Regions from separate parts of the Homo sapiens genome. Here region 1 is linked to region 2. Evidence: fine-mapped expression QTL. Tissue or cell type: whole blood. Region 2 holds a variant in brackets; the other region holds the start of a gene. All regions are shown on one strand. Distances are from middle to middle.

What was found. PIP is the estimated chance that this variant, and not a neighbour inherited with it, causes the effect.
Region 1: GAA starts here. The variant in region 2 is fine-mapped to the expression of GAA in whole blood (TwinsUK, PIP 0.95).

What each region holds. Positions count from the first base shown.
Region 1 is chr17:80,099,168-80,104,293 of GRCh38, reverse strand. GAA (alpha glucosidase) reads right to left here and starts at 2,713. Exons shown (of 20, transcript NM_000152.5): 1 at 2,404-2,713. It overlaps CCDC40 (coiled-coil domain 40 molecular ruler complex subunit), which reads right to left. Exons shown (of 20, transcript NM_017950.4): 20 at 3,681-4,767. The coding sequence ends at 4,519. RefSeq lists an enhancer at 2,107-2,216 and a silencer at 2,547-3,166.
Region 2 is chr17:80,274,777-80,282,760 of GRCh38, reverse strand. All of the region lies in intron 3 of RNF213 (ring finger protein 213), which reads right to left. Among named protein-coding and RNA genes, the nearest start is that of RNF213, 18 kb to the right of the region's middle. RefSeq lists an enhancer at 4,121-4,739. The variant C/T (reference allele first, on the strand shown) is at 3,576.

The sequences.
Region 1 (5,126 bases), 180 kb after region 2:
CAGGAAGACCAGCAAGGCAGGTAGACACTTGAAACAGGCCAAACAGCTGTCGCCTGGGCCAGAGTGCTGTGGTGAGATCCTGGCTCACTGCAACCTCCACCTCCCAGACTCAAGCAATCCTCCCACTTCAGCCTCCTGAGTAGCTGGGACTGTAGGCACACACCACCGCACCCAGCTAATTTTCTGTATTTTTGTAGAGACGGGATTTTGCCATGTTACCCAGGCTGGTCTCGAACTCCTGAGCTCAAGTGATCCACCCCCCTTGGCCTTCCGAAGTGCTGGGATTTCAGGAGTGACCACGCCTGGCTGGGAGCCCCACTTCTGCATAAAGGTGCGGCTTGGTCCACTGGGTGTCAGCGGAAGTGATTCTGGCAACTCGTATGTCCTTAGGGGGACCCAGTACCTTTCCTTGCTCCCTTTCCTATTGACTGGTGCACGGACATACCACAGTGGGGAATCCTGGGCACCGCAGCTGAGGGTGACACTCCAGGGGTGGCAAAGCCACAAGAGAGAAAGGACTTAACCTCTGGCGACTTTGCAGATCAGAACCCCTCCCGGCCCCCGAGGTACATGGGGAAGAAACACAGTCTCTGTAACAGTGGCTGCACCTGGAGCCTCGGGTACAGACACAACAAGGATGTCGCGTGCAGATGAGATATGGGGGTTCGCTTTCATTATTCTGCTGGTAAGGTTAACAAGTACCAACGACCTTTGTTTCGCTTCTCTGTACATTAATATTTTATGGCAAACATTCTATTAGCCTGGCTCCTCCCAGGAGCAGCCGGAACCCACATGCGATTCAATATGCATGGATTTCAATAGGGGAGTCCCTTTGGTGTGTGTAATACACCATGGGGAGGGCGTGGGGAAGGCTGGGAGAGCCACCGCACCTAGGCAAGTCTGACCCCAGGGAAAGGAGGAAGAAGGTGTCCTAGGAGCAAGGCCATGGGGGAGGGATGCAGAGAGGTCCTCAAACCAAAGTCAGCCATCAGAGGGGTCTGCGTCTCTGAGGAACGGGCCTTGGAGCAGAGGCAGGCAAGGATTTCAGAAAGCAGCCCCTGGCCAGTGAAGCTCCTTGGAGCAGAGGACTGTGCAACCTTCTCTGGTACTGGGAGCTGGTCACATACCAGGAAGAAGTGAACTCAGGGCCCGAGGGAGTCTGACCTGTCATGTCATGTTACAGAAGGCTTGGCTGGGAACGCTCTGCCCCCGGCCGGACGTGGTGTTCCACCGTGGGCCACTGGTAAATTAGGGCTCTCTGGGCTGGAGGGTGAAACATTTTACCCACACTTCTGACATTAAATGTGTAGGGTTTTTCTCACACCCATCAATTCTGCAACTTTCTGGACACGGCTGGGTGTCCTACAATTCAATTCAATCTTGACACTACCTGGAGTCAGCACAGACTCCACAGGTTAAGGGCTCAGTCCCACAACACTGCCTTCACTTCAGAGGCCAATGGCAAATCCCAGGTTGTCACTTGTACTTTCGATCAACTAGTTATAAATTCAGAGGTTCCCAGGACTCCCTCTTCAGGGTCACAGAACTCAGGAAAGTGCGTTTCTTACAGTTGCTGGTTTATTACAAAGGATAAAACTCAGACAGCCGTATGGAAGAGATGCGTAGGGCCTGGTGTGAGGTGGGGGCAGTGATGCTGTGCTCTCTGCTCGCACCACCCTCCAGTGCCTTGGTGTGTTCCACAACCCGGCGGGAAGCCCTCTGATCCCTGTGGTTTCTTACGGGGTTCCATTGTGCAGGCATGGTTGACTAAGCCACTGGTGATTCACTCAATCTCCAGCCCCTCACCCCTTTTCCATCCCAACCCGTCATCAGGCCTTGGTCTTTCTGGCCATCTGCTTCCATCCTGAAGCCACCTGGTGTCCCCGGTCATCAGTCACCTCATGAGCAAAAGGCTCTCTCATCACTCGGTTTCCAAGGGTTTCGGGTGCTATGTGCCAGCAACCAGGGACAAAGACCAGAGACAGTCACCCCTGGCCTGGCCTAAGGGGGTCTTTGTGATTGAGACATTCAGATTTCAGAGCTGGCCCAGGGGCCCCCTCTCAGGCCACGGTGCTCCTCACCCCAGGGATTCAGACCCAGCCATGTGCGTCCTGCAGGAGCAGGAGAGGTGGCTCGGGTCCCGGCCAGGACTGAGCACTGCGTCGATCAAAAGGGGAAAGGAAACCCTAGAAACGGGAAGATGCAGCCTCCAGCCCCAAGCCCAGCACAGGAGGGCGGCTCCCCGTTCATCTCTAAGCTGAACTCAGATAAAGACCGGGAGGACTAGAGGTCTGGGGCTCAAGCTCCGCTCAGGGGAAGAGGCTGGGGGCACGGCTAGGCACGTTCAAACCCGCTTCTGGGATGTTACCGCCGGCAGCGCGGGGCAGACGTCAGGTGTCTCACCCGCTCCGTGCCTCAGTTTCCCCGTCAGCTGCGGCACGCGCAGAGCCTCCCTCGCTGAACAACGGGCGGACGAGGAGAACCTAGAGGTGGCCGGGGTCCTTCGCGTCACCGAGGTCACTGTCCTACCTGCTGCCTCATCCCCGACCTCCACCCGCGGCCCCGGCGACAACCTCAGCTTTCCCAACTGAGAGGCCGCGCGGGCAGCCGACCGCCCCACCGACCCGGCCCGCGCTCAGGGAAGCCCCGCAGCCCCGGCCCGGCTCACCTCCGCGCACGCGCGCCCTGGCCGCCCGCGGAGACTCCGGGGTCGTGCCCGGGGGCGCGCAGAGGCGGGTCACGTGACCGGCGGGAGCTCGTCGCGGGGCGGGGCCGCGGTGGGTCACGTGACGCGGCCTCCCGCGCAGGCGCCCGAGGCAAGGGTGCGCGTCCGCGCTACGCCCCCCAGTGGCGGCTCCGGCAGAGCGGGCCTGGGCGCGTCCTCGCTCTCGGAGGGGGCCTGGGGAGCGCGTCTGGCTGCGCGTCCGGCGTCCCGCGGGGAGAGGCCCACGCGTGCTGCCCGCTGCCGGTTCCTCTGGGGTCAGAGACGGGGCGAGGCCCCCGCTGGCGCAGTCCCGGCCCGGTCCCCGTGGGGTCGGAGATGGGGCGTGGCCCCCGCTGCCCCGGCCTGGGTCCCCGCAGCTCGTAGGGCTTTGTAAGGGGCTGGCCCAGCCGCGCCTTGCGCCCAGGGATTCCTCCTGCCAACGCGTCCCGAGGGCATCATCGGAAAGGCGGCCAAAGGCGCTCAGCGCCAAGTTAGAAACAGCCAACATTTGGAAAGTCCTTAAGTGTGCTCCATAACTCACAGTTATTCCAGAAAGGAATAATCAAAACATTGTGATAACCCATAAAACTGACAATTGAGAAAACATTAAACTGACACAGGGGGAATTTTTTCATAAAATGAGAAAATGCTTACATTAAGAGGAGCACATTTTTACATGTGAGATACAAAAAACACACAGTATAACCTTAACTTGCCTAATAAAATGTATGTGCAGAAAAATACAAAAGGAGCCACACCAAAACACAGAGGTGTTGTTCCTGGGTAGGGGCATAGGGGCATTAAAAGCCCCCTTTCCAGCTTGCAGCGAGCCGAGACCGCGCCACTGCACTCCAGCCTGGGCGACAGAGCGAGACTCCGTCTCAAAAAAAAAAAAACAAAAGCCTCCCTTCCACCTCTGTTGTGGTTTCTGTATTTCTACAATGTTTTAAAATAAGTAAGGCTGACTCAGAAAGGCTTACTAGATATTCAGAAAAAAGATTTTATTCTTCTGCTGAAATGTTTGAAAGTGAAATTATTTTGTAGAGCATTTTCCCTTTAAACTGCAAAGAAGCCCCAAGGTCATTGGTACTTGGAAGTCCAGGGAGAAAGAGCGCTGGGTTAATGATGGAGAAAAGATAGGTGGGCAGACTGGGGCGTAGTCCCTTGGTGTGGACGCCCCAGCGTGCTCTTATTTCAGTGCTCACCCTGTTACGTGTGTCTGGGGCCACTGACTTTCTCCTGCAAGCTGTGGATCTGAATTTAACTCAAATGGGGACATGGGGGCAGGAAAAGGGACCTGAGAGTTCTAAGGGGTGGGGATGGGAAAACTGGTAAAGAAGGTGGTTTGTGGGTTTTCAGATGCACCTAGTAGAGGGAAGTGCTGGGGGGACCAGCCTCCCGGGCCAGGCTGGCTGGAGCTGCCTTAACTTTCCCACCTCTGCTCAGCCCACCAGCTTGTGGACCTGTGGCAGCGTTGTGTTGTGAGAGGCACGTGCAGATTTGGGAGTGCTGCAAACCAAAGTGTTACCTGGACGAGTAAGCCCAGTGTGGGAGTGTGGGTGTGTGGGTCTGCAGTCACAGGCTCTGTCTTTGCGATGGGATGCCATGGGAAACGCTAGGATTTTACCTGGTTTATTAAATTGCTGAGTGGCTAAAAAGATTCCTATGGGTGGGGCTGGCTTATTTCTCTTAAACGATGCCCTTCTGAGGGTACATGTGGTTTTTAGGAACACAAAAGATTCCAAGTCCCTCATGACAAACACAATTCCGGATCTCTTCCTGGAGGCCTTGCAAGGCGGAGTCCAGGCTGCTCCCTAGGAGGGCCCTGGTGACTCGAGCTTGTTGGCGATCATCTGGCTGACCTTGTGCAGGGCCTCCTGGAACTGGGGGTACTCGTCCCGCACGCGGTCCAGGATGGTGGCGATGAGAGCCAGTCGCTTGTCCAGGCGCTGGCGCTCCAGCACTAGGGACTGCTTGGAGCGGAACAGGAACACGTAGCGCCCCTCCTTCACAGCCTGCAGGTGCTTAAGGCGTGTCTGCAGGGCCACGATCTCTGAAAGGTTCTGGGTAGGAAAAGAGACTCCATATAGGGCTATGCAAACCAGAAGAAAGACACCTGCTGGCCCCCCACAAACTCAGATTCCAGGAAATGCCGAAGAGGAGGCGAGACCTACGCCTGAAAAGGGACGGCGTGAAGGTGTTGCGCCCCTGGATCTCAGGGAAGAGGCTGAGAGGCACTGGGTCGGTGCTTTATGGGTCACCCATCATCACCATCTAGGAGGCATTCTTTTTTTTTTTTGAGATGGAGTCTTGCTCTGTCGCCCAGGCTGGAGTGCAGCGGTGCGATCTCGGCTCACTGCAAGCTCCGCCTCCCGGGTTCACGCCATTATCCTGTCTCAGCCTCCTGAGTAGCTGGGACTAC
Region 2 (7,984 bases):
TGCACCACTGCACTCCAGCCTGGGAGACAGAGCAACACTCTGCCTTGAAAAATAGTAATAATAGGCCGGGTGCAGTGGCTCACGCCTGTAATCCCAGCACTTTGGGAGACCGAGGCGGGTGGATCACAAGGTCAGGAGATCCAGACCATCCTGGCTAACACGGTGAAACCCCATCTCTACAAAAATACAAAAAAATTGGCTGGGCGTGGTGGTGGGCGCCTGTAGTCCCAGCTACTCGGGAGGCTGAGGCAGGAGAATGGCGTGAACCTGGGAGGCGGAGCTTGCAGTGAGCCGAGATTGTGCCACTGCACTCCGGCCTGGGCGACAGAGTGAGACTCCATCTCAAAAAATAATAACAATAATAAATAAAAAATAAAAATAAAATATTGAATCAAGCTGGTATACAGTCGGCCCTCTGCAGCCACAGATTCAGCCAACCACAGACAGAAAATACTGGGGAAGAAAACAGAAAATAACGAGACAACAATAACAAAGAACACAAAGAGCAACACCGCACCGTGTAGCAACTGTTCATACAGCATCTATGTCATACAGATGCCTGTGGTAAGGAATCTAGAGATGAATTAAAGTGCATGGTGTCGGGGGCCGGCCTCAGTGGCTCAGGCCTGTTATCCCAATACTTTGGGAGGTCAAGGCAGGCGGATTCCTTGAGGTCAGGAGCTTGAAACCAGCCTAGCCAACATGGCAAAACCCCATCTCTACTAAAAATACAAAAATTAGCCAGGTGTGGTGGCAGGCGCCTATAGTCCCAGCTGCTCGGGAGGCTGAGGCAGGGGACTCGCTTGAACCCAGGAGGCGGAGGTTGCAGGGAGCCGAGATCACGCCATTGCACTCCAGCCTGGGCAAAAGAGAGAGAATCCGTCTCAAAAAATAAAAAAAATAAAAAATTAAGTGTACAGGCGGATGCTGTGGGTTATGTACCAATGCCACGCCGTTTCATATCTGGGACTGGGCATCCTTGGATTTTGGCGTCCTCCGCGGTCCTGGAACCGACCCCCTGTGGGCAACAAGGGACCACTGTGTGTTTCAGTGTGAGTATGAGATGGGTGTGAGTGGGACTTGCGTATGTTGGGGTGTGTGTGAGTGGGGTGAGTGGGGAGTGTGTGTTGGGGGTGTGTGTGAGTGGTGTGAGTTGGCTGTGTGTGTTGGCAGTGTGTGAGTGGTGTGAGTGGGGCGTTTGTCTTGGGGGGTGTGTGAGTGGTATGAGTGGGGCATGTGTGTGTTGGGGTGTGTGTGTGAGTGGGGTGTATGTATGTTGGGGGGTGTGTGAGTGTTGTGAGTGGGGTGTATGTTGCAGGGTGTGTGAGTGGTGTGAATGGGGTGTTTGTCTTGGGGGTGTGTAAGTGGTGTGAGTGGGGTGTGTGTGTGTGTTGAGGTGTGTGTGAGTGGGGTGTGTGTGTGGGGGCGTGTGTGAGTGGTGTGAGTGGGGTATGTGTGTGTGGAGGGTATGTGTGTGGGGGGGAGTGTGAGTGGTGTGAGTGGGGTATGTGTGTTGAGGTGTGTGTGAGTGGGGTGTGTGTGGGGGTGTGTGTGAGTGGTGTGAGTGGGGTATGTGTGTGTGGAGGGTATGTGTGGGGGTGTGTGTGAGTGGTGTGAGTGGGGTGTGGGGGTGTGTGTGAGTGGTGTGAGTGGGGTATGTGTGAGTGGGGTATGTGTGGCGGGGGGTGTGTGTGACTGGGGTGAGTGGAGTGTGTGTGTTTTACCCAAATGCTGAGCCCATGGTCTAGACACCCCACTTTCCACACCCGTGTATACACCCTGACCAACACGCTCCGGTCCGCATATGCAGTGCCCTAACTCCAGCTCACATCTCATGCTCCGTGCGCATCCCCAGGTCGCGCCTCTGTTACTCCGTGGGAATGTTTCCACCCGTGTACGTTGACAGCTTTACTATAAATCTCCCATCCATTTCTCCTCCTCACATCTGTTAAGTATCCTCACCAATTTATAGTTTAAAATCTGTCAACTTCCAAAAATACAAAACGAGGCTAGGGTGGTGGTTTATGCCTGTAATCCCTGCACTTTGGGAGGCTGGGGCGGGAGAATTGCTTGAGCCCAGGAGTTTGAGACCAGCGTGGGTAACACAGCAAGACCCCATCTCTACCAAAAATTTTAAAAATTAATTGGGTGTGGTGGTGCACGCCTGTAGTCCCAGCTACTCGGGAGGCTGAGGCACGAGGATTGCTTGAGCCCAGGAAGTCAAGGCTGCAGTGAGCTATGATTTTGCCACTGCGCTCCAGCCTGGGACCCAGGGCGAGACCCTGCCTCAAAACAAACAAAAACAAAACCCACCAAACCCATTCAGAGCTATACTACTGTTATACATTAATTAGTTGGTTAAGTTCCCGTGTCATTCTGGGTGACAGCAGACATCTCTGCAGTGCTAAACCTTCCATGTTCTCTCTGGGGAAGGGCCCACCTCTCCACGGACTTCACTGTCTGCTGAGCCCGAGCCTTCTTCTCCTCGCATGGCCTATGAATCCATCCTTTATTTTACAAGTTCCTTCTCACATTTTTGTTGCTATTGTGAATGAGCTCTCCACCCACACTGTGCCTTAGGTCTGGCTAAGTCCAGCCCCGTGTGGACGCTGCCTGCATTTCCCAGGAGCTGCAGGAGTGGGCTCACGGCCAAGCCCCAGCCCACAGAGGAAAGAGCATGCCTGCCTTGAAGGCTTCTGCCTACACTTAAGACCTAGGCGTGGTGGATGCTCGGTAAGTCTCCGTTCAATGAACACATGACCATCTCGATGGGCAGGGGCTGGGGGGAGCGCGGTGCGGGGAAGGCAGGGAGGCCGTCGCCCTCTGCAAAAAAGTAATAAACTTCACAAGCATCACTCTTCAAGGTATGAAGCTCCCTTGCTTTTCCCCAAAAGCAAAAGTCCTTTCATTACATGTGTTACCTAATTTCATTTTTGATATTATTAGTGAGTCCTGTAATACTCCTAAATGCTATAGAAAAAGTCAGGATTTGGGGCAGGCACAGTGGCTCACGTCTGTAATCCCAGCATTTTGGAAGGCCAAGATGGGTGGATCATTTGAGGCCAGGAGTTCGAGACCAGCCTGGCCAACATGGTGAAACCCCGTCTCTACTAAAAATACACAAAAAAAGTAGCCGGGCGTGGTGGCAGGTGCCTGTAATCCCAGCTACTCAGGAGGGTGAGGCAGGAGAATCGCTTGAACCCTGCACGCGGAGGTTGCAGTGAACTGAGATCGTGCCACTGCACTCCAGCTTGGGCGACAGAGCGAGACTCTGTCTCAAAAAAAAAAGAAAGAAAGAAAGAAAAGAAAAAGAGAAAAAGTCAGGATTTCAACTTCCAAAAACCAGAGACTAAACTGAGCAGGGCTTCCACTACACCCCCACGTGGCGAGCGCCATCCAAGACCTTGTGTTCAGGCAGAGGCTGGGTCGGGCCCCCACCTGCCTGGGCCTGGCCCTCTAAGCCCCCTTGGGCTCCCCTGCTGCTCTCTGTGGTGAAGCCTGTGTTGCTGGTGGAGCTTTAGCCAGGTGAGTGCAGCCAGGTTAAGTTTCTCCAGGTGTCCAAGGGGACAGCTGCA[C/T]GGAGTAAAAAGGCAAGTGGAAGGATGTGGGCCAGAAGGGCAAGCACAATAAAGCTGAAATTCACCACTAGCAAAACATCCTCAGAGTCACAAGAGCCAAGCCTGAATCAGCGTTGCTCTTTCACAGCCCAAGGGTGACCCGAAAACGCCCATCCTGGGCAGCCTTCCTCGACTGGCAGGGACTCAAGGGCCGGAAGTGCGAGGTGGCCGTGCCAGGCTGTGCCAGCATGCACCAGGGCAGGGAGCATTCTGCCCAAACTATTGACTCGGACTACCTGCTCACAGTCTGCAGAAGGCACGCTGGCGGCCTCAAGCGGGGCTGCATCCTGCTTCCTTCTCTTGCTGGGTATGGCATTAGCAGCTTCCCATTCATCGGATATGAGGTCTACAGCAGCATCTACCAAAACCTCTGATGTAGCTCCCTGTTGAAACACGACCCCCTTCAGACAGGGCAGGGCTGTGCACCCCACGCACAGCTCCAGTAGACTCGCAAAGACCCCACCTCAGGGGCCACCTCCTCTTGGGAAGGCCCAGGCAGGGACACCCACATGTGGGCACTGACCAGCTTCCCAGCACCGTCTGCCTCCAGGGCCCATGGGCAGGAGGGTGTGGGAAGACGAAGAAGCAGCTCCTGCAGACGTGCAGGACAAGTCCACGTAAGAGGAGAACTGCCCACACCAGAGGCGGCACCCTGCCAGGCTCACGGCACCCTGCCAAGCTCCCAGCACCCTACCAGGCTCCCGGCGCCCCGGGCCTCCACACGAATGCCTTGGCTTGTGCTCAGAGCACAGATGCACTGCAGAGACCGACCCAGAAGGTATAGGCAGGCCCGGGCACCCCAGGGCCAGCCAGGCCAGGCCTCCCAAGCCCCTAGAGGCGGAGGCGGGCAGTCTGGCCCTGTAGCGGGCATGCTCATCCGACACCTCCCTTCCACACCACACCGGGCATCGCCGGGAGACCTCACAGCAAGACGCCCAGCAGGAAGCTGAGGAAAGGAAGCTCCACCAGCAGCCTCCTGGCCTGCCGATGCCTCCAACCCAAATGACCCCTGGCTCCGGCAGTCTCCTCTTCCCTCACCACAGGAAGTACAACCCAGCAGCCAAGCCCAGTAGCCTCTCCAGAGGAAGAATGCACAAAGGACACCCTGTTAGTCAGCAACCAGCGGCCACCAAAGGAGAGGCCAAGTGGAGGATGGCTGTGCCAAGGGACAGGCGCGGGCCCCTCTCTGTGCGCCCTTTCCCTCTCCACCCACCCCATGACTGCAGGTGAGGACTGACCACCTGACTCTGCTGCAGGGTGAGGCTGGCCACGCAGCTCGCTGTCTCAGCTTCTGGGGCCGCCTCCCTTGGCTCCTAGCACCCTCCTCACCATGGTTAGAATGCGGCGTCTGCGCTTAGAGCACCGTTCACGCATACACTGCTCTCAGCTTCAGAATTCAATAGGCTCCCTGTGGGATTGGGAAAATGCGCAAAAGCCCCTGTAAACTCATCACCAGAGACAACCCATCGGCATTCACCTGTGTATTCACTCTGAACTTCTCTCATGTGTGGATATGTGGATATTTAGGCTTTTTTTTTTTTTTTTTTTTTTGAGACAGAGTCTCACTGTCGCCCAGGCTGGAGTGCGGTGTCTCAATCTCGGCTCACTGCAACCTCTGCCTCCTAGGTTCAAGCAATTCTCCTGCCTCAACCTCCTGAGTAGCTGGGATTACAGGCAAGCACCACCACACCCGGCTACTTTTTGTATTTTTAGTAGAGACGGGGTTTCCCCATGTTGGTCAGGTTGGTCTTGAACTCCTGACCTCAAGTGATCCACCCGCCTCAGCCTCCCAATGTGCTGGGATTACAGGTGAGAAGCCACCGGGCCTGGCCCTAGTTCCCATTTTCTTCATCCCAGAAAGAAATCCCACAGCAATGACTCCCTCCTCCCCACTCCTCCCAGCCAACCACTAATCTGTGTTCTGTCTCCATGGGTGAGTCTATCGTGGATATTTCATATCAAAGGAATCATACATGGCCTCTTGTATCTGGCTTCTTTCATTTAGCATGTTTTTGGGGTCCATCCAGGCTACAGCACAGATCCATATCGTATTCTTTTTTTGTTTTTTTTTTGGTTTGTTTGCTTTGTTTTGAGAGTGAGTCTCGCTCTGTTGCCAGGCTGGAGTGCAGTGGTGCGATCTCGGCTCACTGAAACCTCCCCCTCCCGGGTTCAAGTGATTCTCCTGCCTCAGCCGCCCAAGTAGCTGGGATTACAGGCATACGCCACCACGCCCAGCTAATTTTTTTTTTTGTATTTTTAGTAGAGACGGGGTTTCACCATGTTGGCCAGGATGTTCACAATCTCCTGACCTCGTGATCCACCCACCTCAGCCTCCCAAAGTGCTGGGATGACAGGTGTGAGCCACCGCGCCCGGCCTAGGATAATTTTATGCGTAACTTTTGGATCAACTGCCTTGCTGCTTCCTTAACGGCTGCAGCGTTTAACATTTCCACCAACACTGTACAACACTTCCAATTTCTCCACATCCTCATCAACATTTCCTATTGTCTTTCCTTCCTTCCTTCTCTCTCTCTCTCTTTGAGGAAGGATCTCACAGTCACCCAGTGAGCCACCGCGCCTGGCCTCTTTTATTGTTCTCTTGTTCATGTCGGTTTTCTCTTGTTCAAGATTCCCTAGAAAATGTCTTCATTCTTTTCACATCTTCTGTGTCAACTCTACATTTTACAAATTCAAGCAGATTTCCACTAGTAAAAAAATTTAAAACATTAAAAAATAAATAAAAAATAGGGCAGGCGTGGTGGCTCACGCCCGTAATCCCAGCACTTTGGGAGGCTGAGGTGGGCAGAGCACCTGAAGTCAGGAGTTCAAGACCAGCCTGACCAACATGGAGAAACCCCGTCTCTACTAAAAATACAAAATTAGCCAGACATGGTGGTGCATGCCTGTAATCCCAGCTAGCTGGGAGGCTGAGGCAGGAGAATCGCTTGAACCCGGGAGGTGGAGGTTGCTGTGAGCCAAGGTCACGCCATTGCACCCTAGCTTGGCAACAGGAGCGAAACTCCATCTCAAAAATAAATAAATAAATAAATAAAACAAAAAATAAATAAATAAATAAATAAATAAAGTCTATGTTCCTTTGGCTTGTTGCCAATTAGTAGTTTGATAGAGATTTCCTTAAACACCTACAGCCAAAACATGGAAAAGAAAAAAGAAAAAAAAAAACTGGCCAGGCATGGTGGCTCACGCCTGTAATCCCAACATTCTGGGAGGCCGAGGCGGGTGGATCACAAGGTCAGGAGATCGAGACCATCCTGGCCAACATGGTGAAACCCCGTCTCTACCAAAAATACAAAAAATTAGCCAGGCGTGGTGGCGGGTGCCTGTAGTCCCAGCTACTCCGGAGGCTGAAGTAGGACAATCACTTGAACCTGGGAGGCAAAGGTTGCAGTTGAGCTGAGATGGCGCCACTGCACTCCAGCCTGGGCAAAGGAGTGAGACTCCATCTCAAAAAAAAATAAAATAAAATAAAGAAAAAATAATACTCTCTCAGTCTCTGTAGACTGGCCCTGAGTTGGGACACTCCTCCCACACTCAGCCTTCCTTCCAGCCTGCACTGAGGTCTTCTCAGGTCTTTTTCGAGTGCGTCCTGCTCGAGCATTTGTGTGGCTTTCTAGATTCCTCATTATTCATGGAAACTTTTCAAAATTTTATTCCCCCAAGTAACTCAATTCTTAGCTTTTCCTCTGTCTTTGGGCGGGTTTATTGTTTGCCCCAGATGGCAAAGGGTTTATTCATTTGCCTTCAATGTTTTCAAGGAACACCATCCGTACTGCCACTTTCCCACTCTGACAGAGTTCCAAATTAGGCATAAAAAGGGAGTTACCCAAACCTTCCGCATCCCATGTGCTCCAGGCTTGGGGGTGGCCTTGGCTGCTCTGGAAGGGATTATTCTCCAAGGGAATGACACAAGCACACACACACCCCACTCCCACACACCCCAACATACACACACATCCCACTCACCCCACACACACTCCCAACACACACACACCACTCACACACACCCAACACGCACACACCCAACACACACACACCCAACACACCCCACTCACACACCCCCAACTCACACACCAACACACACCCCCAACACACACACACCCCACTCACACACCAACTCACATACCCCAACACATACACACACATCCAACACACACACCCCAACACACACACCCCCCACTCACACACCCAACACACACACCCCACTCACACCCCACTCACACACCCCCAACACACACACATCCCATTCACACCACTCACACACCCCCCAACACACACCCCACTCACCCCCCACTCACCCCCCACAGACACCCCCCTCACCCCCCACTCACCCCACTCATCCCCCACAGACA